4 separate regions of the Homo sapiens genome follow, and all the other regions are linked to region 2. Evidence: fine-mapped expression QTL. A gene starts in region 2. Each other region holds a variant in brackets. All regions are shown on one strand. Distances are from middle to middle. Region 1 overlaps TTYH2 (tweety family member 2). Region 2 holds the start of TTYH2 (tweety family member 2). Region 3 holds the start of DNAI2 (dynein axonemal intermediate chain 2). Region 4 overlaps TTYH2 (tweety family member 2).

Region 1 (5,907 bases), 24 kb after region 2:
GTGGGGAGTTGTAAGTAGGTCACTGCTGTCATTCTTATTTTTTAAAATTTTAGGATCTTTTGAGCCTAGGAGTTCAAGAACAGCCTGGGCAGCATAGCGAGACCCCATCTCAAAAAAACAATTTTTTAGTTTTGTTTCCTGTGGGAAAATATCAGGAAGAAAGAGAAGGCATGACAAATACAAATACTGCCTTCTTTTTTTTTCCCCCTAAGGAGGAGTTTAAGAAATAGAGAAGTTAACTGTGAGAGAGTAGAACTGTGAGGGAGAAAACAAGTGGCCTCACAGAAAAAGTTTACAGATAATTTTTTAACAGCCCTTTACTCTGAAGTTTGTTTGATTTATAGAAATATAGAAATATAGAAATGTCACCTATTACTGGGTTTGTTCAGAATGGCACTATTCTTTGATGATAGTGCCATTTGTATAAATGTTTCCAAAGTGGTTGTACATTTATCTTATTAAATTGAACAGCCAAGTGTACTAGCATGACATTTAGTTACTGAATGTACTTTTACATGGTTTGGGGTCTTTTCCCCTGTGCTTCGGGCTGTCGAATCTGCACATGGTAGAGTGTCTCCGTACTCTGGTATCTCTTAGTCCTTAACCAACTCGTAAGAACCAAGCATAAGCCAGAAAACGGAACAAGCCGCTGACACTGAAAAAATAAAACAAAATGAAACAAAGAGAGCCATTCTCTTTTCTGGAACTAGGAACTCCCAGCGTAGCGCAGATGTAAAAGGCCACACAGCTGATGTGAAGTCCCCATAACACAGAGAACACCGTTGGCCTCCGAGAGTGGAATCTAATCGGCCTTGCTGATCTCACTGTGGGAAGTTTCTGCCTCTTCTTCTGTGTCGTTTTTATCTCCCAGACCCGTGGGAGCTGAAGGCTGCCGAGTGTGGATTAGTGCACACTGCCCCACTCCCGGCCCGTTGTGCTTCTTGGTTTAGTGTGACAGTTTCAGAACAACAAAGCCCTTTCTCCGCTCGCTGCCAGCAAGGGCGTGCTTGGGGCTGCCAAGCTGCACCCCGGGGTTCTGCAGGCACCCTGGGTCTGGGCTGTGGGAAAGTCCCGCTAACCAGTACGAGCCCTGCCTGTGCTCTTCAAAAGCCAGCTAGGGTTGACCACTTGGACCATTAGAAATGGATGCACATGGCCGGGCGTGGTGGCTCATGCTTGCAATCCCAGCATTTTGGGAGGCCGAGGTGGGTGGATCACTTGAGGCCAGGAGCTCGAGAGACCAGCCTGGCCAACATGGTGAAACTGTCTCCACTAAAAATACAAAAATTAGCCGGGCATGGTGGTGCACACCTGTAGTCCTAGCTACTTGGGAGGGAGGCTGAGGCAGGAGAATCACTTGAACCCGGGAGGCGGAGGTTGCAGTGAGCCAAGATTGCACCACTGCACTCCAGCCTGGGTGACACAGAGCGAGACTCCATCTCAAAAAAAAAAAAAAAACAAAAAAGAGAAAGAAAGAAATGGATGAACGGGCTACTCTGGCACACTGCCTAGAGGGTAGCCCTGCTCTGCAAGGAGCAGTACCTTTAAATATAAATAAATAAATAATGTTTTTAACTGGATGGCCAGCCGTCAACTTTCTATTTCTGTCTTGCATTGGCAGATGTTTCCTTCAGGGTCCACTCAACCCCAGGCCCTTAGGGCTCAGCCAAGGGACAGGAGCCTGTCTGCCCACCCAGCAGGACACACATCCAGGGGAGGATGTGAATACAAGGAGAAGGCGCCGGTTTCCTCCTCCTGCCTCATGTCCAGGCTCCTCAGAGACAGGATCGCAGCTGTTTTTGTTTTTGCAAAGTCCCATTGTCCTGCCTTCACTCAGCGTTCAGGACCCGGTGTGCTGCGGCTAGTGCCACAACAAAGCTTTTCTCTTATAGAACAATTAGAAATCCTATTGTGGGGATACAAGGTCAAGGTAGCAACATAGAGTCTGTTTCTCTAAAAGAGAATTTGTAAGCCAAAGTGCTGAAAGTTTTAAGAGAATCTTCAAAGAATAATGGATTATTTTGTTGGTTTCTCCATCTGGGTGTCTCTGTATATAGTAAGGTATAGTAATGAATGCATACGTTTATTCCAGCCCTTTACAGCAGGGGCCACGTGGTGGGCACACAGGATAGCCTCCTTAGTAGAGAGCAACAGAGGCTCCAGAGGGCAGGGATGTGCCCACACTCCCAGCGCCAGAGGCTAGACCTGGCCTCAGCCTGCAACACATAATGGTGTGCTCCTTTGGCGCCAGCATTCTCTCTCTCGGAGCCCAGATCCTGTTTAAGGCCAGGTCAGGGACTGCCCCCTGGTTTGAGGGACATGAGGACTGGGTGGGTAGTGGCGGCCTCTGTCTTCAGTCCTTCCTCCAGGGGCACAGGCTCGAGATCTTCAGGCCTGGGGCAGCATGGTGTGTTCATTCATGCCTAAGCAGGCCAGGCCAGCTTTTTTTTTTTTTTTTTCGACACAGAGTATCACTCTTGTCGCCCAGGCTGGAGTGCAATGGTGCGATCTTGACTCATTGCAGACTCCGCCTCCCGGGTCCAAGTGATTGTCCTGCCTCAACCTCCCAAGTAGCTAGGACTATAGGTACATGCCACCACACCTGGCTAATTTTTATATATTTTTTTGTAGAGACAGGGTCTCACTGTGTTGCCCAGGCTGGTCTCAAACTCCTGGGTTCAAGCAATCCGCCTGCCTCAGCCTCCCGAAGTGCTGGGATGACAGGCATGAGCGTAATTATCGCACCTGGCCAGGCCACCTTCTGCTGCCTGCAAAGACCTCTTCCGGGATGAGAATCAGAAGCTCTACCTCCATGGCTTTTGCCCCCTGCTCCTCCCTAGGTTTCCGGAACTACCCAGAAGATGAAGGTGGACCTAGAGCAGCACCTGGCCCGGCTCAGTGAGATCTTTGCTGCCCGGGGCGATTACCTGCAGACCCTGAAGTTCATACAGCAGATGGCGGGCAGC[G/A]TTGTTGTTCAGCTCTCAGGACTGCCCGTGTGGAGGGAGGTCACCATGGAGCTGACCAAGCTATCCGACCAGACTGGCTACGTGGAGTACTACAGGTGAAGGACCGGTGGGAGGCAGAGGGAGGGGCAGCAGCGGCTACATCAGCTTTGTTTATCCAAACCTGCATGTTGAGCTCCAGGTGGAGAAGGGCCACTGGAAAGTATTTTTTTTTTGTTTTGTTTTTTTAAGACAGAGTCTTGCTCTGTTGCCCAGGCTGGAGTGAAGTGGCACGATCTCAGCTCACTACAATCTCTACCTCCGGGGTTCAAGAGATTCTCTTGCCTCAGCCTCCCTCCCAAGTAGCTGGGACTACAGGTGTGTGCCGCCACGCCAGACTAATTTTTGTATTTTTAGTAGAGACAGAGTTTCACCATGTTGGCCAGGCTAGTCTCTCGAGCTCCTGGCCTCAAGTGATCCACTGGCCTCAGCCTCCCAAAGTGCTGGGATTACAGGCGTGAGCCACCATGCCCAGCCCACCAGAAAGTCTTGATAAGCCATTGGCCAAAATCAGGAGAACATGGGGGCTTACAGGGGCCACGTGGTGAGCATGCAGGATAGCCTCCTTAATAGATAGGCAGCAGAGGCTACAGAGGACAGGGATGTGCTCACACTCCCCGCGCCAAAGGCTGGACCTGGCCTCAGCCTCCCGCACACGGTGGGGTGCTTCTCTGGGACTAGCATTCTTCGTGGCTGGTGCAGGGTGGAAACGCCACATGCTTCATAGGTTCCTCGCCTGCCAGAGTTCATGGGACAGGATTTCTTGTATCCACAGACACAGCCACAGGGTTATGGGGGGTTGAGGAGATGAGCACCCGGCTAAGGGTGCTAAGAAGTTGCCATCAGGGGAGGCTCTGACCTACAAGTCATTGTGCTCCCAGGGCCTGGGCCTAAGCGTGGAGGAGGCACAAGGGAGGAATGAGGCTGTGTCCCCAGACTCACTTTTTTTTTCTTTCTTTTTAAGACAGTATCTCACTCTGTCACCCAGGCTGGAGTGCAGTGGTGTGATCATGGCTCATTGTAGCCTTGAACTCCTGGGCTCAAGTGATCCTCCCGCCTCAGCCTCCTGAGTAGCTGGGACTACAGGCATACAACCACACCTGGCTAGTTTAAAAAAATTTTTTTTTGCAGCTGGGACTGGTGGCTCACACCTATAATCCCAGCACTTTGGGAGGCCAAGGCAGGCAGATCGCCTGAGGTCGGGAGTCCGAGACCAGCCTGACCAACATGGAGAAACCCTGTCTCTACTAAAAAATACAAAATTAGCTGGGCGTGGTGGCGCATGCCTGTAATCCCAGCTACTTGGGAGGCTGAGGCAGCAGAATTGCTTGAACCCAGGAGGTGGAGGTTGCAGTGAGCCAAGATCATGCCATCACACTCCAGCCTCAGCAACAAGAGGGAAACTCCATCTCAAAAAAAAAAAAAAAATTTTTTTTTAGAAATAGGGGTCTTGCTTTGTTGCCCAGGCTGGTCTCAAACTCCTGGCCTCAAGCAATCCTCCCACCTCAGCCTCCCAAAGTCCAAGGATTACAGACATGAGCCACCATGCCCAGACCAGCCTCACTTATGTAGAACCTGAGTGATGGGGACTGAGGGGCACCACCCTCACTTAGGTGTACAAACTCATGCCCGTGTCATCTGACCTCTGGGGCTTTGTTTACATCTCCCCTGCCTCCCCATTTGCCAAATCCCAGCCTAGCCAGAGGCACTGGACACAATCGGCGGAGCAGGGACCTGCTGCCCCTCTCCAGGTGCAGGGTCCAGCGAAGTTTGCTCCGTGGAAAGCACAGGAAGGAGGCAGCAGCCCCAGCCTTTGGAGGGCTCCCGGCTGAATGATGGCCTGGGCTTGTGCTCCCAGGGCCCGGGCCTAGCATGGAGGAGGCACGTGGGGAGGGGAAGCATGAGTCAGGAGGAGCGAGTGTCAGTTCTTTGGATCCCTCCCCGCACCCTCCATTTGTTGGCTCCTCTTCAAGCCATTGATGAACGTCAGAGCCTTTAGCTCAGGGTTGCACAACTTACTTCTGTTTTCTGGATTTGTGTCCCCTTGTGTCATAAAGCCCCACTCCAGGAGGTCACTGCTGGACTGAGTCCAGGGGCCTCTCCCCTTCCCAAAAATAGGAGGTGGCAGGTCCCTGAGCAGAGGGAGCTCATGAAGTCCCCAGCTCTGGGGGTCCTCCCCACACCTTGCCTCCCCAGCCCGTCCAGTCCCTGCATCTCCGCCATGTCCTGGATGCTCTGGATTGAAGGGACCTTGGCCCCACTCCCCAGCAGATGGATGCTCATGGGCAAAAGAGCCTCCCTCCCAAGGGACAGAAGGAAACTGCCAGCTCTAAGGACTGTCTGTGACCTCCTGTGGCCCCAAAACAGGGGTGTCTGATGATTCTCCTGATGCATGGGCCATTCATTGCCTGAGCCTTCGAAATCTTATGTCAGGCAGGGGCAGGACCCATTTTAACGTCACTCTTCTCTGAGCACACCTAGCAGAGGACTGTGTATGTTTAAGGGCCTCATGTGGGCATTTTGTTAATGACACTGATGGAATTAAGTCAGAATTTACATATCAAAGGCGGCTTATTGTTAAGGCGATGGTATTAAAATAGTGGAAGGATGGTGTCAACTGCACATCAGCTATTTCAGCGTGGGTGATTGACAGGACCCCCTGTGAGTCCATCCCCAACTCCCCACTGCTTATTCGGGTTGAGGCAGAAGAGGTTTGGCTCATGCTGTAATCCCAGCACTTTGGGAGGCTGAGGTGGGTGGATCACCTGAGGCCAGTAATTCGAGACCAGCCTGGGCAACATGGAGAAACCTCATCTCTACTAAAAATACAAAAATTAGCTGGACGTGGTGGCGCACGCCTGTAGTCCCAGCTACTTGGGAGGCTGAGGCAGGAAAATTGCTTGAA
Region 2 (5,907 bases):
AGCCATATTAACACCTCTTTCATTGGCTTGCTGTCAGGGTACTGGGATGGGGGGAGGTGCATGGGTTGGGGTGGCCACCAGGTGGTGCTGTGCCACAGCGGGCAGCCCCTCTGGAAATGACTGGCATCATAAAATCTGTCTTCATACCCGAGGTAGTGTTTTTTGTTTTTTTAAGATCTCTACCTTTTAAAAGCGTGGCATACAGTGTGCTTGGTATTGTGTTAGGCATTTAGACGTGCTCAGGTTGTAAGGTTGAAGTGCCAGTCTTTGAATATTCTGTAAGGATTGTGAGGGTGTGAGGTGGTTTTGAGTCTGGTCACGGGTCTTGTTTCCTCCGGGAGAGGGTGGGTACACCAGCCCTCAGGCCCAGGTGCGGCACTGTGGGCGGCTTTCAGCCTTTCCCGTTCTGTAAGCATTGCAGATTCCCAAGGAAAAGCGAGCCTTTACCATGTGGGTTTTCTTTGTTCCCAGCACATCGTCCAGAGTTTCATCCCAGCTCCTAGGAGACAGGCCTTGCAGGGGTGTGTCCAGCCTTGTCTAGAGAAGGCCGCCTTTCATGCAGTGCTTCCCAGCCCTGGCTTGTGACTCAGTCATCTGGGGCACTTAGGCAGTTCACTGTGGTGGCCAGGGCTGACTGGAGATTGCGATTGCGGTGGTCTGGGGCATAGGTGTGTTTCCAAGCTCTCAGGTGGGCCTCTGCTTTGCTGGGGCTTCAGCAAGCCCTTAAGTGCTGCATACCAGGTGAATGGGGAGGGGGGAGGTGATGGGCTACAGCTGCTGGTGTGCCGACTGTCCTCCAACTCCCTGCTGAGTCTGTGGGAGGTCTGTCTGTTGTGCTTCAGCTTTTTGACACCTCTCTGGGTCAGCAGGCCTCCGGGGAAGCAGCTAGAATGGTCGCTGTCTGGCTGGGTGCAGGTGGGCTGACAGGTTTGGATATTCCAGGCCGCATTCCGGTGGCTGTGGAGATAGCCCTGAGGGACAGCCTTTGCAGTTTGTTTCTTCCAGTGCCGTGTGCAGGCCTCCAGCCTTCTGGGGCTCCCTTGCCCCGGGTTCAAAGTCAGTCCTCGGTGACCACCCACTGCCTAGGAGGCAGGCCCTTCCCACCTGGGGGGCCTCTGAGGGCAGGGGCTGTAAAAGCAGCTACCAGAAGAGTCCACTTTCCCCAGCAACTGCAGGGACTGAGTCAGAGACCAAGACCTTTTAAAAGGAGGTTTTCACCCAAAGAAGTTCCCTCCCCTGCCGCAGTCTCCAAGCTGATCGCCTGGCTCCTGCAGTTCTCCGGCTCCCTGTCCTGTTCTGGAACTTGCTTGCTTCCCCTTCCACTGGCCTTAGTCCCTGATCTCACAGGGTCCTGTTCCTTCTGCACAGAGGCCTCCCCCAGCACCCCCCTCTTTGACTCCCGATCATCCTTCAGCTCATGTCACTGTCCTTTGGGAAACAACCCTGACGCCCACCTTCCATCCCCTCTCCCTACAGCAGGGACTCTGACATTTCACAAGGCCTGCAATCGCTGTTTGCAGGATACAAGTCCACCTCACCTCGCCTACTAGGCTGTAGACGCCATGCAGGCGGGAACGTGTGTTTTATCCATTACTGTATCCTCTAGAACAGAGAACGTGCTCAAGAAAATTTGTTGAAAGACACCCCAATGAGAGAAGAATGGCTGTTTCCAGCCTTCCGGGCCCCTCAGCTTTGGGCTCCTGCAGGGCCCCAGAACCGTGGGATCACGGCCACGAGGAGAGGCCCCGAGGCCAGGACTTCCTCTAATGGACACAGGGCCTTTGAGCACCGGGTGACTGGGGCCCCACTCCCCAGCAGCCATATGTGTTTGCGAGCGTTTTCAGTCGGTCCGCATCCACCCGGTCCCTTCAGCCAGAACCCTAGGAGCCCCGCCCCGTCCTCCCGGGGCTCCTTTCTCACCCGCGTCCCTGCCGCGGTGGATACGCACCCCTCAGGCTGGCTGCCCAGCGCGGTTTCCACGCCCAATCTGCCGCGACCCCATCACTCCACCGCACCTACCCCTGACTCCTGCTTGTCCTGCAGCCTGGGCTCCTCCCTCCGCTGGCCAAGTCACGCCAAGCAGTTTGCGGTTACAGGACGGGTGGGGGCCTCTGCATATGTGCAGAGTACGGAGGGCCCAGGGACGCGAGGCTCCCCGATGGGCAACCTCCCCTGCCTTTGCTTTTCCCCAGAGCCCCCTCCTGGCCTGCGTTCGGCATCTTCTCGGGTCGTCATCGCCCTCTGCGGTGCCTGCGCTCGGGGTGAGGGTTTTTGTCGGCTTTTGTTACATCACCGATGTAACAGTGCCTGGACGTAGTAGGTGCTCAATAAATATGTTGTTGAATGCGCTTCAGTCTCCCCGAATGCTTGTCCCTTCCGGGCGCTCTCATCGCTCTCCTACCTTCCCCGCTACACAGCTCGAAGGTCCCCTCCTCCGGGAAGCTCACCCTGTCCCACTTGCCAGGAAGAATCAAGCAAATTTTCTGAGTGAGACACCTTGTCCTCACTCAGGCGTCCTGCAGGCGGCTTCAGCGAGTTGTTGGGGCAGATGCGCCGGGAGCTCCCGAGGGCAGGGACGGCGTCTTATTTCTCTTTTTAAGTCCACAGGGCTTGCACAATAGATGCCCAAAAAATGAGAGTGAATTTAGAATGAGTGACCGAGTGGCTGAAGATTGCCTCCTTCCTTTCCCAGTCTGTCGGTTACTTACCCTGTGACAAGCCCTTGGGACGGGCAGTCGCCCCTCTCTGGCCTATGACTGCTGGCTGCCCCCACTGACACCTTATACCCTTGATCTGATCATAAATAAGAAGCAGCCCGGGGACCTCGAGACTGAAACTGATTTAGAGACTTCTGGGAGCTTTTTTCACTTCCCTCCTCCCATCCGGCCAGGACAGATCCCCGCCCAGAAAGGGGCTGTTGACTGCAGCGGGCTGCGCGCCCAGAACTGGGACTGGGATCGCGGCGGGGCGGGGCGGGCGCGGGCCCAGGGAGAGGCGGGGCCGGGGGCGGGGCGGGCACGGGGCCCCGGCCGGGAGGTGAGCGCAGCTGTCGTTCAGCTTGTGGGTAGCACTCGGGCCGAGCCATGCAGGCGGCGCGCGTGGACTACATCGCTCCCTGGTGGGTCGTGTGGCTGCACAGCGTCCCGCACGTCGGCCTGCGCCTGCAGCCCGTGAACAGCACCTTCAGCCCCGGCGACGAGAGTTACCAGGAGGTAAGTTTACGCCGCCCCAGACCGCAGCCACGCGCGCCCCAAGTCCCCGCACTACCCCCTCTCCCCTCGAGAGCCTGCACTTTCCCACGTGCCTCTCAGACCCCTTCTCTCCCCGCGCAGCCCTTTCCCGTCTCCCCTCTCCCCTTTTCCCCCACCCTCCCAGGCCCGTGGCCCGCGTCCCCTCCTGTCTGGGAACCTGGGGGCCGGGAAAACTGAAGAGATCAGAGTGAAGCGAGCGTGGGGAAGGGGAGGAAGGGCGCAAGACCGCCTGCGGGGTGAGGGGCTGAACGCTGAGCGGGCAGGGCGGCGCGGGGGAGGGGTAAGGACAGGGGCATTCGTCTCGGGGTAATCCTGGCGCGCGAGGTGCGGGGATGCTGAGGGGTGCCCCGAAGTTTTCGACCGTCTGAGATTCCAAGATGGGGCGCTCTCTTTCCGGGGCTGAGTGGCCTAGGAAAGTTTGGCAGAAACTGAGTAGAGTCTCCCGAGTCGGTCTTCGCAGCACCCCTCCTCCCCAGCCCCGGCCTGCAGGGTGGGAGTCTCAGCTGGAAGGCTGCAGGGCTTGGGGAAGCGGTGTGGGTCACTTCCCCTCTAGCGCAGAGAACCCACAGCTGCTTGCGCTTGTTCCAGGGAAGGAAGGTGGCCTCCGTCAGCCCATCTCACACTGTTGTCCTGAGGACCCCCTTGCATTGACAGTCAGCTTCTCTGTGTCCCCTGGTCCTAGACTGGCCCATTCCTGTTCCCCCACGCCCCTCTCTCTACCTCACACCTTTAAGCCCTGAATTTCTGGCCTAGGGCAGTCACTCCCGGCTTCCCCGCCCTTTCCCTACTCTGCTGACCCTTGGCAGGATTCTGCACCCCACAAACAGGGCCAGGGCTCCCCAGACCTCCCTGCCCAGACAAACAAAGCTGCAGAATCTCCCAGCCCGTCTCAGGTCTGGTCACGCCTGCTCTGGCCCCGGGAGCCCACCTGTATCAGTTCCTTGTGTTGGGTCAAAGATTCTGGGGCCAGTGGACCAGGATGAGGTCCATTTATTCAGAGCCAGGCGCCCATCTCAGGACTTTGGCCCCCGGCGGCCTCTCCCTGTGTCAAGTTCTCCAGATATGGGACAGATCAGGGCAAAGCAGGGCCTCTTGGAGGGAATCCTGATCCAGTGTGAGGTGCCCAAGCGCCAGTGACAGGGAGTCTAATAATAACCCCTGACGACCCGGCTGCCATCAGGCCCAGGCAGATGGTGCCTGCCCTACCAGAGGGAGGGGAGCATCAGGACCCCTTCCTGGGGTTCAGTGGGCACTCAGGAGCAAGACGGCAGTCGGTGGACCCACCCCCCTCCCCCAGAGCCCAGCCTGTGGGAGTCTGTGTTCCCTGAGAATGTGGCTGCCTGGGGATAGCTCCAGGGAATCTTCCTCTCCCAGAGAATGCATGAAAAGAGGCGGATATGATTTCAGAAACAGCCGTGTGTGTGTGTGTGTGTGTGTGTGTGTGTGTGTCCCCATCCCAAACCCTGTGCCCCACATCCCACACCCGGGGTCTCCAGCCATAGTTTTCTCCTCTCCACTGGAGGAAATCTAAACTTTTCATTGGGTCAAGAAGACCCCTAGGTGGGGGTAGGGATGGTAAGGGGACTCCCTCACCCTGATGGCCCCAGAGACAGTTCCTATCAGCCCAACAGCTGTGGCTGGTGGATCCTGGGCCTGCCCACAGCCCCCTCAGTCCCATGGGCAGGTGGCAGTTGAGCCAGATGAACCTACCTCCAGCCTCTGCCCCTCCTCCCAGGATTCTGGCCCCGGCTCACTTTGTGCTGGGCATCAAATGGTTCCAGAGGGTGTCCCTTCCCATCGGCCACTGCTCCTGGGCAGCTGACACCAGCCCTGCCCACTGGCTCCTGGTCCCGCTCACCCCCTCACCACCACTCAGATCGCTGAGTAGGAGATGAGCGTGGTGGGCCAGGACCGGAAGTCTGGCTCTGGGTGTTATTTAAGGTGGCTCCTGTTTTTGGTAAGTTCCCCTGTTGTGACCACAGGTCTCTCCTGGATGTCTTCTTTCCTCCTGAGCACCAGTCACTAACAGAGTCAGGTGGACCGTCGGTCATCCCAGTCTTCAGCAAGCTTGACTGGAGCAAGTGCTATGCCAGGCGTGGGGTGACCGTGGTAACCAAGGCAGCAGGTCTTCAGGAGAAATTGCTGGGGATTTTCTGCGGCTGGGCTCTGGGCGCAGTGCTATGGCAGACACCAAGCAGTTTGAGGTGGGGCTCTGCCCTCCAGTTGGCTGGGGTGGATTCCCAGTTCTTTCCATGTGTGACCACGGGTAGGTGTCTTAACCTCTCTGAGCCTTGTTCCCTTCATCTGCAAGAATTAGATGAGATATTCCACATATCATGCCTAGTACAGAGAGTCCCATAGCACATAACAGGAGCCAGTGACACAGATCATTCAATGGAGTGGCTGAGAGGTTCAGGAGTGTGTCTCAGGACAGTACCCTGCTGGGGAATGGAGAGGAAGGAGATCTCTTCCACAGACTCTGATTGGGGGAGACTGAACAAAACGCCTGCAGAAAGGGCTTCAGCTCATGCCCCACATGTTCAAATGCACAGTGCTGGCTGTGTGGGGTGTGGGGGGTGGGTGCGTGTGCATCAGAGACTAAGCAAGGATGGAAACAGGCAGGTGCTGGCCTTAGGATGTGGGTGGTGCGGGGGAT
Region 3 (5,907 bases), 61 kb after region 2:
TGGGTCATTGCCATGGAAGGGGTGGATAACTTCCAGGTGTTGCCATGGCAATGGTAAATTGACATGGCACACTGGTGGGCGTGTCTTATGGAGAGCTGCTTCCGCCTCTTCCCTATTTTAGCTAGCCCTCAGTCTGGTCTGGTGTCTGAGCCCTGCCTCCAGAATCAAGTCCTGCCTCTTACCTGTGGCTACAAAAAATGAAAAAAATTAGCCGAGCATGGGTATGTGCACCTGTGTTCCCAGCTACTTGGGAGGCTGAGGAGGGGGGCTCGCTTGAGCCCTGGAGGTTGAGGCTGCAGTGAGCCATGATTACACCACTGTACCCCAGCCTGGGCGACAGAGCGAGACCAAAAAACAATGTGAATGAACTTAATACCACTGAACTATACACTGAAAAATGGTTAAGATGGTAAATTTTATGTGTAGTTCACCACGCACACAAAAATTGGGACTAAAGGGGGACACAGCAGTGGAACGGGTTGTGGCAATGCCTGGGGATGTCCAGGGCCAGGGGCGGCTCTCAGCAAAGAATTTCTGCTGCCAATTATGCTGTGATTGGGTGAAGATCTGAGAGGCACCGCAATTGTTTTCAAACTAGGTCCTTGTGAATACTTCTAATTATATGACCTCACGCCGAGGCAGCCGGCCAAGGGGTAACTGTTTGGCCAGTGAACAGAGCTGCCCTCTGTGGTCGGTGGCCTGCAGCCTTCTGGGTGAGGGTGGGGGTGGGGAGCCTGTACTAAATTGTTGGATAATATGGTAAAGGTGGCTGCAGTTTCCTTTCAACTTTTCCTATTTCCCCTTCTAACCCACTTTCCCACCCACAAAATAATGTGTCTTCAGAGAGCCCTCGGCTTCCCAGGGCTGGAGGTGGAGTGGAAAGGGTTGCATTATGATTGCAACCCCAGCCAGCCACTACCTCATCATGGAGTGGATCGTTTCCTATTCTTGGAGACTTTGGGTCTGATTCACCTCTGACCACACAAAGCCATTTCAATGCGTCTTTCAGGAGCTCCTCCACCCAGCCCCTGTCAGGACCCTCAGCACCCACCCCTAAGAGTTCTTTGTCCCGAGAAACTGGTGCGAGCCAGAACGGATCAGGAGAGATTGGTGGCAGCAGTCATTTAGGTGCTTGTCTTTGGTTAGTGCGGCCCTGCAAGGTGCCGTCTCATTGGGAATTTCCTTGCACCTGCCCCACTAAAGGCAGGTGGGTAGTGGTGACAACACATATATGGAGAAGTTGGGAAGTGGGAGAGAAACGTTTGCTTCCTTCCTGTCCTTTCACAGATCCCAAACCCGCTGAGGGCTTCCCATGGAAAGCTGTCTGGGCCCCTCAGCCTGCCTCTCTTGGGACCCCCCACAGACTGGCCCTGGCTGACCTTTGCAAATTCCTCTCTCATTTTTCCCCTGCAGGGACTCTCAACCCCAGCCAGACTGATCCACCCACCATCCTCGCAAAATGCCTTTCTTCCATGACGACTGCCCCTTCCTTCCTTGCTCACGCCATGCCCTCCCCCAATCTGGAACGCCCTCCCCACTCCTCTTCCCTGCAACTCATAACCATTTTTCAAGGCCCAGTTCCAACCCCAATCCCACTTCTTGGATGACGCACTCCTCTTCTGTCCCAGTCCAAATTTCCGATGTCAGCATCTGAACTCGGGATAACCTCATTCCCCGAGCTGCCACTCATTCAGGCACCAGTAGCTCTGGACGGGGGCTGGACACGCCCCTGTGTTGTCTCTCACTTAATCCTCCCCATTATCTAATAAGCACCGCCACTGTCCTGCCACTTTGCAGATGAGGATAGCTGAGTCTTAGAAAAGGAAAGGAACTTGCCCAGGGCCATGAGATTAGTAGGTAGCCAATCTGGGATTCAAATTCATTTTTTTCTAGCCCCAAATTCCCTTGTTTTAATTTACATGATCGCAATTGCCTTAACTCCCTGAGAAACATGACTCGTTTCATTCATTCAACCATTCATTCAATGAACACAGTACATTTCGTGCCAATCACCCAGCTAAGCTGTAAAAATCCCCAGCTTTGCCGGGCGCGGTGGCTCACGCCTGTAATCCCAGCACTTTGGGAGGCCGAGGCAGGCGGATCACAAGGTCAGGAGATCGAGACCATCCTGGCTAACACGGAGAAACCCCGTCTCTACTAAAAATACAAAAAATTAGCCGGGCGTAGTGGCGGGCACCTGTAGTCCCAGCTACTCGGGAGGCTGAGGCAGGAGAATGGTGTGAACTCGGGAGGCGGAGCTTGCAGTGAGCCGAGATCGCGCCACTGCACTCTAGCCTGGGCGACAGAGCGAGACTCCGTCTCAAAAAAAAAAAAATTCCCCAGCTTCTACTCCCAAGGAGTTTCCATTCTGGTGGTGCGGGAAGATGTCTTTATTACAGAAAGTGGAGGAAGGATGGTAGCAGAGGGGAGGGCAGAGTTATAATTCCCACTGAATGGATGCGGAAACTGAAGGAAGGCAGGACAACACAGTCGGCCAAGATGGTAAGCAGAGCCCGCCATCACCACCCAGGGATCAGGGCTTCCCAAGCACTGACTATTCTTCCTTGCATTTTCTGGGTGCCTTGCTCGATGCAAATGCATACAAACGTAGGCTTGGATAAGCGCCTTGGCAACGCCCCTACAAATATTCATGATCATTATTAGTATGTTACCAACCTATTGGTTAATTCTTCTCCTAACTCAGGAGACCTCCAAAAAGAAGAGGGATGGCCTGCGCTTCCGACGTGGCAGGAAAGGAGTCACGTGCTCCGGGGTCCTTCCGCGTCGCCCCGCGCGTCCGGAGCCAGGCCGGGGTTGCCAAGCAACCGGTAAACGCCGCCGTTTGAGGAGCACCGGAGCCGCGACCGTGGATTGAACGCTTCCCCAGAGACCCAGAAGCAGAAGGAGCGGACCCAGGGTAAGGGGCGGGCGCCAGGAGGACGTCGGAGGCTAAAGACTAGAGTGGAGAGTGACAGGGAGAGACTTACAGGGTAATAACCACCAAGAGTGCCAAACATTCCTCTTGGGGGGCTTCCTTCTGGGATAGCTCTGCCAGATGGTGGCTGCCAGGACTAGCGCTCCTAGTGCCCTCTTCCCCTTAGTCCTCGCTGCCCTGGATCCGCCCCAAGTCGCAGGACCCTGCAGCCTCTGTACACCCTGCCTCATACCCTCCTACCCACTCAGGTCCTGATACAGTCCTTGTCCTGGAGTGGACTGGAGACCTCTGAAGGATTTACAGCTGAATGGATGGAAAAAAAAGAAGAAAAACAGCCTCCGGCTAGGGTGATGGGAAGATGGGCCCTTTAAGAGGAGAGCTTTCTGCTCAGGATAGAGGGATGTAAATTAACAGTATTGCACACCTGCTAGGTGGCAGGTGTTTTAAGTGCTTTCTTTCATTTCTTCCTCAACCTGGGAGCTGGCGTTCTCGTGTGATCGAGGTCATACAGTTGGTGAGTTCCTCCGGAGCGTGTGCAGTTCCTCCTTCCTGCTCAAGGTCAAGGTTTACCACATTCTCTTGAACCACAGAAGTGCGTCTTCTCCCAGCTTTCAGACCCTATGTG[T/C]TTTCCTCTCGAATCCTTGGTTTCAAATCCTTTGCTTGTTTGTCACGGTCAGCAGAGGAGGAACAGGGGAGAGAGCTGTAGAGAGAAGCCTGGTAGGCGCTGGTATCACAGTCACTAACGCAGCAGGTGACAGGAGTCTTGGGCCCCTTCTATGTGCCAGTCCCTGGGGACGGGAGTGAATAAAAGACCACAGTCTTTCCGTCAAGGAGACCACAAGGTAGTTGTGAGGGCAGGTAGTCACTGACCCCCATCGGTCTCCAATTCTGGGGACCTCTTCCCAACTCGTCCTGCCCTCAACCTTCACTTTCCTTGGGGGGCTCAGCCATGCTTAGTGCTATCCTGGGGGAAAATAAATGGGGGCTTTCTAGGGAGGTCTGCCTCTTTTGAGGGTAGAGTGAGTCCCTCAGGACCCCGGAATTCCAGAAGGTGCACAAGGACATAAGAAAGAGAAAGAAAGCTGGGTGCGGTTTTCACACCTGTAATCCCAGTGCTTTGAGAGGCCCAGGAGGATGGATCACTTGAGGTCAGGAGTTTGAGACCAGCCTGCCCAACATGGTGAAACCCCATCTTTACTAAAAATACAAAAATTCTGGCCGGGTGCAGTGGCTCACGCCTGTAGTCCCAGCTACTCGGCAGGTGGAGGCAGAAGAATTGCTTAAACCTGGGAGGTGGAGGTTGCAGTGAGCTGAGATCAGGCCACTGCACTCCAGCCTAGGTGACAGACTGAGACTCCGTCTCAAAAAAAAAAAAAATTAGCCGAGTGTGGTGGCATGCACCAGTAGTCTCAGCTACTCAGGAGACTGAGGCACAAGAATCGCTTGAACTTGGGAGGCAGAGGTTGGAGTGAGCCAATATCACACCACTGCACTCCAGCCTGGGTGACAGAGCAACACTGTCCCAAAAGCAACAACAACAAAGAAAGAGGGAAGGAAGTCCTCTCCTGCCAGGTGCCATGCAGGGCCCACCACTCGCAGGAACCCAGTAGGGGCTGTACCAGGGACCAAGAAGAAGAGGAAAATGTTCTCATCTCCTTATTCCACTAGGGAGTTCAATGTGGAGGGCTGACCTTCCAGCTTGCCTCCTTCCCAGTCTCCCACGCTGACACTCCTCCTCCCCATCACTCCCTTGGCCTTCCTCCCAGCTTGGAAAACACACTTTCCCTTAAGCCACCGGAGGTTCTCTCCAGGAATTACTTTGCTCATTCTCACTGCACAAGACGAGTTTTGTTTTTATAGTGAGTGAAGGTTCCCATCTGACTGCCTCCCCGGGGATGCGGGAGACGCCTGAATCTTTGATGTCTGGACCACAGCGTCCCTGATTCTGCGTGTTCCTGTGTTTGAGACTCACAGTGGTGTTCTTCACGCCTCTGGGACTCTAGGTTCCCACGGGGGGAGGATCTCCCCCCAAAACTCCAGAGGGCAGTGACACTGCTCCCGTCCCCGCTCTGTCACCCCATGCAGACACTCCTGCTCAGGCCTTGCTTGGGGAAGCCCACCCTCTAGCACTAGTCTCACAAGAGGTTGGGGGAGACCTCCTGAGACGCCCTTTGCTGACCTTGCTATTCATCTGTGTGCCCTGCTAGCTTGTGAGAAGAGCTTGCTCTGGGTCCTTGAATGGGTTGTCTTCCCGTCACCAGGCCAGTCTTTAAATGTCCCCTCTGTCTGCCTCCAGACACAAGACAATGCCTCTGTTCTCACTCGGGGCTTGGCCTTGGGAAACACCAAGAAGGAAAGCAAAGCTGTTAAAAATCTGATCTGGGCTAAAGAGGCTATTTCTGTCTTCCTGGAGTTTCCTCATTCTCTTCAATCTCCTTGTGTCCCCTAGGAGCCAGCTGGCTTGCAGCAATTTCTTTTAAAAGTCAGAGACAGGCAGCCCTAATTGCCTGAGTCCTGCAGCCCCATGTGGGAGGCACAGTTGCTTCACACTGTGTTGGCAAAGGGGAGGATGCCACGGGATTTGCATGCTTTTTCACAAGGCCGTAGCTTTGTCCATGTGGTAAAAACACACTGGGGCACCCCGCTACAATCTGGGCTTCTCATCCCACCCTGTGCCCTCTAAGCCATTGCTCCCACCCAGGAAAGAGAATTTCCAAACTACAAGAAAGAGAAGAAAACAAGGCTGGGTGCGGTGGCTCATGCCTGTAATCCCAGCACTTTGGGAGGCCGAGGTGGGCGGATCACTTGAGATCAGGAGTTCAAGAACAGCCTGGCCAACATGCTGAAACCCTGTCTCTACTAAAAATACAAAAATTAGCCGCGAATGGTGGCATGTGCCTGTAATCCCAGCTACGGGAGGCTGAGGCAGGAGAATCGCTTGCACCCGGGAGACGGAGTTTGCAATGAGCCTA
Region 4 (5,907 bases), 39 kb after region 2:
TGCAGCCAGAGTGGAAGCAGCCCCTTCCAGCAGGTATGGCCCCCCGAGGCCTGCCCTCACCCTGCCCACAGCCGCTCCCCCTTGACCCTAAGCCTCACCACTGACCAAGATGGCGGAGGTGGCAGGGCCTTGCTTGCCTCACTGTGGTCCTCTCCTTAGCTGCTTCTGTGAGGGGGGCGTGCTTTTGGTCGTGGGTTCTAGATTGGTGGTTAACACATATGCAGCTCAATGCGGGAGCTAGTTCCCATGCAGATGCTGTCCAGGAGCTCTGGGGTGGGGCCGAGATTCTGTACTACTCACAAGCTCCCAGGTGAGGCCAGGGCTGCTGGTCCAAAGACCACATCTGAGCTGCAAGCAGGGAGAAGACTGTGCAGCTCTCAAGAAGCCAGAGGAGTAGGGGGAGACTTCCTGCAAGTGGAGGGGCCTGTGCAGCTGCAGCCAGGTGGGGGGGTGGGAGGGGCAGGAGCATAGGCCCCTCAGCCACTGTGGGGCTCCTGGGAGACGGAGCCTCACTGTGGGGCTCCTGGGAGACGGAGCCTCACTGTGGGGCTGTGTCTTTCCTGGCTCAGACCCTGACCACCTTCCAGCGCGCACTTACCACCATGCAGATCCAGGTCGCGGGGCTGCTGCAGTTTGCCGTGCCCCTCTTCTCCACTGCAGAGGTAAGGCAGCTGTGCAGGAAGAGGGGAGCCCCAGATGAACCCTGACAGCCCTTTCCCCTGCCCCGGCCCCAGGGCCAGGCTGTGCACAGCTTGCTGCTGGCTCTCTGTTCTCCCGCCCCCGTGACTCGGCTCCCTCCCTTGGCTCTAGAGGCCCCTGAGCACAGCTGCTGTGGTGGTTTTCTCCGCCAGCTCTCCTCCACAGCCCCTCGGCCTCTCTCGCTCTCTTCCCGCTTCAGGAAGACCTGCTTGCAATCCAGCTCCTGCTGAACTCCTCAGAGTCCAGCCTTCACCAGCTGACCGCCATGGTGGACTGCCGAGGGCTGCACAAGGTGCATGGGGACCCTGGGGTCACGTGGAGAGTGTGAGGGCACCCAGCAGGCCACACCTTCCAGAGAAAAGCCGGTAGAGGCCGAGGGGAGCGATGGCCTGGGTCCCCTTCCGGCCCAGGAATGGAACTGAAGCCAGATAATGGGAAGGGAGGGGGTGCCTGGCTTCTCCAGGGGCTGAGACAGGGAGACTCAGTACAAGGGACCAGGGGTTCGGGATGGGAGGGTTGGATGCGGTTGGCTCTGGGTCACTGGGGGACCCTGAACAATGCAAGGGAGGCTGTTCCCCATTGTCCAGACTCCTAGCCATTTCCTCAACACATCTGTCTCCCTGGGTTGCAAGTGGATGTCCCAATCCCATTGCCAGAGTCTTCTTTCCAGGAACTTGGAATATCAGACAGACACAATGATGCAGGGAACACATGGGGAGCACGTGAGAGCCCCCCACCCAAAAGCAGTGAGCCAGTGTATGGCGACAGCTTTCACATCCCAGATGGATTTAGTGCAGACAGTCTTTGTCATCATCACAGCTGTCAGCTCCATGCTTGGCCCTGTTCTGTGCATTTTATATCCAGTATGTCATTCAGTTCTCACAGTTATACTGTGAACCACACGTTATTTCCTAGGAAATTGACTTGCTTGTGCGTGTGTATGGATAGATCCATAGATACAGCTATGTGTGTGTGCACGTGCGTGTGTCTGTGTGTGTGTGCGTGTGTGTGCACTTGTGGTGTATATGTCTGTGCGTGTGTGGTGTGTTTCTGCGGTTGTGTGGGTGCACATATGTGATGTGTGTATGTATGTGTGTGGTATGTGCATGCTTGTGCGCATGTGTGCTGTGCATGCGTGTGTGTGGTGCATGTGTATGTGCCTGTATGTGTGTGTGGGGTGTGTGGTGTGTGCGTGTGTGTGGTGTGTGCATGTCTGTGATGTGTGTGGTGTGTGTGCATGTGTGTTGTGTGCACATGTGTGCACATGTATGTGGTGTGTGTGGTGCATGTGTGTGTGCATGTGGGGGGTGCATGTGTGTGGGGGGTGTGTGTGCGTGTATTTATAAAGTGGCTTACTGAAGAGTCCCGAGTTGGCACATCAGGGGCTTGGGTTTAGATCCTGGTAGTCTGACCTCAGAGCTAAGAACATGGCAGTCACCCCTGTCTCCTCTCTTCTTCCCCTTCTACATCTAATCCCCAGCAAGTCTTGGCAGCTCTCCTCTCAGCTGTACCCTGAATCCATCCATTTCTCTTTCTCTCCATGGCTTCCACCACGATCCGGTCCTGCCCCTCCAGCAGACAGTGGCCTCTTCCCACTTTCTCTTGCCCCCTCACCACCCATGAGCTTTCACACATGCAACCAGAGCAGTCCTTTTGCAGACTAGGTTGGATCACATCCCTTCCACTCCCACACCCTCCAATGTCTTTCTGACTCCTTTTAAAAGTCCGTACTCCTCTCCCGCATTGCAAGGCCCAGCACGACCCAGCCCCTGCTGGCCTATGTTCTCTCTCTTTCCTGAACAGGCCAAGCCTGTCCCCTTTGCCCCCTCTTCTCAAGGTGTGCTGCTTCTTGCCATCCTGGCCTCAGCTTCAGTGCCCCCGTCTCTGGTTCCCCACCCTGCAACCTCCTCCGCCCTGTTCAGAGCCAGCTTCTTAGTGCCCAGCTCACAGTAAGTGCTCAGCAAATGTTTCCAGCGTGAACCCAAGAAGCCCCATTGTGTTAGGCTCCAGAGTGTGGACCTTTAATGGTGCTGCAAGGCGCTCGGGATGGGGAGCAGCCAGGAGACCCCAGGTCCAGGCTCGGGGGAGAGGGACTTCCAGAGGAGAGCTCGGCCCGCAGGCTTTGCCCCCGCTCCTTCACTAGCTGCATGTCCCTCCTCTTCCTCCAGGATTATCTGGACGCTCTTGCTGGCATCTGCTACGACGGCCTCCAGGGCTTGCTGTACCTTGGCCTCTTCTCCTTCCTGGCCGCCCTCGCCTTCTCCACCATGATCTGTGCAGGGCCAAGGGCCTGGAAGCACTTCACCACCAGGTGGGCTGCCTAGTAAGGAGGGGAGCCTCCCACAGCCTGGAGTTCTGGGAGAGCAGCAGACAGGGGCCTCTGCTCTACGATTTAGCTGATAACCCAGGACTGAGGAGGGCAGCAGAG[G/A]GCCCGGGCATTCAGCCCAACAGGCTGGCTGACTTCTACAGAAGCTTCCCCAAGAGTCCACACAGACCCTCCAAAGGAGTTCGGTGGGGCCCAGAGCAAGAGCTGGGGCCCAGGGTGGTGACAGCCCTCAGGCCACAGTCTGGCCTCCCTTCTCCTCTCTTCTCACCAGGACTTTGCGATCTGGAATGAGGAGAGTTCTTGGTGCTGGGAGGGGTGCCCCAGGAATAGCAAGAAGGATACATGGGGTCACTGTTTTCAGGGAGCCTGCAGTCCCCTTGAGGAGATGGGCAGGGACACATGGTGTACAGGCACCTGGTGAGCGGATTAGGCAAGAGGACGCAGGGTAGTGGGGACCCACATGCGCATGGTCAGCGTGGTGGGGAGCCTGGAAGAGCTGGTCGTGAAGCTGGGAATGGGCCAGAATGATCTGCAGGAGGCAGGCTGGGGACCGCGTTTTAGAGGAGTCTCAAGGAGACACGCGTGGCCAGAGAGTCCTGGGAGGAAAGGCAGGGAAGTAGGACAGGACCTGGCTGCCTCGGAGCCTCCTTCACCCTTCACAGCCGGCCATCTTCTACCCATTGTTCTAGAAACAGAGACTACGATGACATTGATGATGATGACCCCTTTAACCCCCAAGCCTGGCGCATGGCGGCTCACAGTCCCCCGAGGGGACAGCTTCACAGCTTCTGCAGCTACAGCAGTGGCCTGGGAAGTCAGACCAGCCTGCAGCCCCCGGCCCAGACCATCTCCAACGCCCCTGTCTCCGAGTACATGTACGGCCTGCACACACACCCAGGCTGGGTAGCACTGCCCGGACAGCATGTTGGGTGGGGTCCACAGTGCCGGGTGTGGGGAGGAAGGCATCCAAGGCCACCCGTGGTCCCCACTACAGCCACAGGGTGCCTGGAGGGAAGGCCCCCGGGGAGCATCTAGTCACCCCTCCACACCCACATGTGCTGGGGGAAGAAACCACTGATGTCAGCAGCCTCTGCCACAAGCTGGTGGGACAGGTCTCAGGCCCAAAAAGCTGCATTTCTCCAGGCCATGCTGCTCCCAGCCTCCGTTGCCCATCAGCCACTTGTCCCCAGGCTTCCCAAGGTGCTCTTCTCCATATCTGCCCACTGCACCCCCTCCACTCTATCTGTGGTTTGGTTCCATCCCCCACCTCCCATGTGCTCACCCATGGGACCCTCCTGTAGAAATCTACACACACCCCCACTCCCACACCATCCCCTCCTGAGCTCTCCTCTCATCCCCGCAGGAACCAAGCCATGCTCTTTGGTAGGAACCCACGCTACGAGAACGTGCCACTAATCGGGAGAGCCTCCCCTCCGCCTACGGTAATTGGGGCTCTGGCCCTTCCTTGTTGGGGTAATACATAAAGACAAAACCTCCTGCCAACCCAGTGAATCCTGTCCACAAAGGCAGAAAAGAATGAAACTGTTCTGTTATTGAATATGCACTAAACCAGACCGTCGTGGGTATCCCAGGCAGTCCGCTAAGGAGATTGCAAAGATGCAAGAAATCTCACTCCTTCCCCTAGCCAGGCAGGAACAAGACACAGCCCACTGCATACCTGTCATCCAGCAAGAGGACTTGACGGCACTGTTTGTCACAGTAGTCCACCTTAATCCACTTGCTAATTGGGGTGGCCATCCTGGTTAAGTAATTGCCTTTATTTATTTATTTATTTATTTTTTGAGGCAGAATCTCACTCTATTGCCCAGGCTGGGGTGCAGTGGCGCAATATCGGCTTACTGCAACCCAGGTTTCAAGCAATTATCCTGCCTCAGCCTCCCAAGTAGGTGGGACTACAGGTGCGTGCCACAACGCCAGGCTAATTTTTGTATTTTTAGTAGAGATGGGGTTTCTCCATGATGGCCAGGCTGGTCTCAAACTTCTGACCTCAGGTGATCCACCCGCCTCGGCCTCCCAAAGTGCTGGGATTACAGGCATGAGCCACCGCGCCCGGCCAGCTAATTGCCTTTATCCAGAGGAAAAATAAAACTCCTATTTCCGTGACAATCAGATAGCTACAACTTGGAGCCAGGCCCCTAAGTGAACTGTCACTGAGAAGGAGATGAGGTGCTGTCTTCCTGATGTTTGTACTTCCAAGAGATGGCTCCCAGACCTGAAAAAACCATACCTGGATTGTAACACTGGCAAGGGCCATATTCAGCCTTTAAGAAGGTTTGCAGACATCTCAAAAGACAGAAATTATTTACAATGATAAGTTTTCTAAAGGAAATACTGCAAGAAGAGAGGGGGTCTCTTTCCCTTTTTGCTCCAGAGAAAATTAAGGAATTTTTTTTCTTTTTAGATTTCTGTTTACCTTAATCCTTGGTCTCTTTTGGGCTGGACGGTGGGTTGGCTGTGGTGGCGGGTCTGGGAGGGCTGAACCCAAACACAGCCTTCCTCAATCCGTCTCAGCTCCCCATGTCCCTAGGACTGTGCCCAAGTAGGGCCAGTGCCTCTTGTCCACCCCACCACCTCCAGCCAGAGTACCTGAGATACAGCCTCAGGGGAGTAGCTCAGGGTGGGCAGGTTGAGAAGGAAAGACTATGCTGTCTCATCCCAGAGAAGTATCCAAAGGACACAGAAATACTGGCTGAGACAAAGAAAGCTGTAAACAGACAGTGAAGTGACCGCCAAGGTTCAGGGACACGGACTCCAGTGCCAAAGGCCTGGGTTCAAATCCCAGCTCATGGCTTATGGCCTCTGTGACTTTGGACAAGCACTTTGCTGCTCTGTGCCTCAGTTTCCCCATCTATAGAATGAGT

Evidence for each region. PIP is the estimated chance that this variant, and not a neighbour inherited with it, causes the effect. A credible set is the group of variants that fine-mapping cannot tell apart.
Region 1: its variant is the best candidate, but not a certain one, in a credible set for the expression of TTYH2 in unexposed skin (GTEx, PIP 0.55).
Region 3: its variant is the best candidate, but not a certain one, in a credible set for the expression of TTYH2 in lung (TOPMed, PIP 0.71).
Region 4: its variant is the best candidate, but not a certain one, in a credible set for the expression of TTYH2 in whole blood (INTERVAL, PIP 0.89).

Annotation. Positions count from the first base shown.
Region 1 is chr17:74,234,454-74,240,360 of GRCh38, forward strand. It overlaps TTYH2 (tweety family member 2), which reads left to right. Exons shown (of 14, transcript NM_032646.6): 4 at 2,841-3,061. Among named protein-coding and RNA genes, the nearest start is that of TTYH2, 24 kb to the left of the region's middle. The variant G/A (reference allele first, on the strand shown) is at 2,967.
Region 2 is chr17:74,210,505-74,216,411 of GRCh38, forward strand. TTYH2 (tweety family member 2) reads left to right here and starts at 3,067. Exons shown (of 14, transcript NM_032646.6): 1 at 3,067-3,212. The coding sequence starts at 3,084. It overlaps MGC16275 (a long non-coding RNA gene), which reads right to left and starts at 2,817. Exons shown (of 2, transcript NR_026914.1): 1 at 2,020-2,817; 2 at 1-1,178. RPL38 (ribosomal protein L38) reads left to right here. Exons shown (of 5, transcript NM_000999.4): 5 at 1-151. RefSeq lists enhancers at 1-38, 5,362-5,411 and a silencer at 2,944-3,103.
Region 3 is chr17:74,271,429-74,277,335 of GRCh38, forward strand. DNAI2 (dynein axonemal intermediate chain 2) reads left to right here and starts at 2,806. Exons shown (of 14, transcript NM_023036.6): 1 at 2,806-2,917. The variant T/C (reference allele first, on the strand shown) is at 3,561.
Region 4 is chr17:74,249,367-74,255,273 of GRCh38, forward strand. It overlaps TTYH2 (tweety family member 2), which reads left to right. Exons shown (of 14, transcript NM_032646.6): 8 at 1-33; 9 at 570-662; 10 at 899-991; 11 at 2,868-3,010; 12 at 3,715-3,900; 13 at 4,389-4,467. Among named protein-coding and RNA genes, the nearest start is that of DNAI2, 22 kb to the right of the region's middle. The variant G/A (reference allele first, on the strand shown) is at 3,128.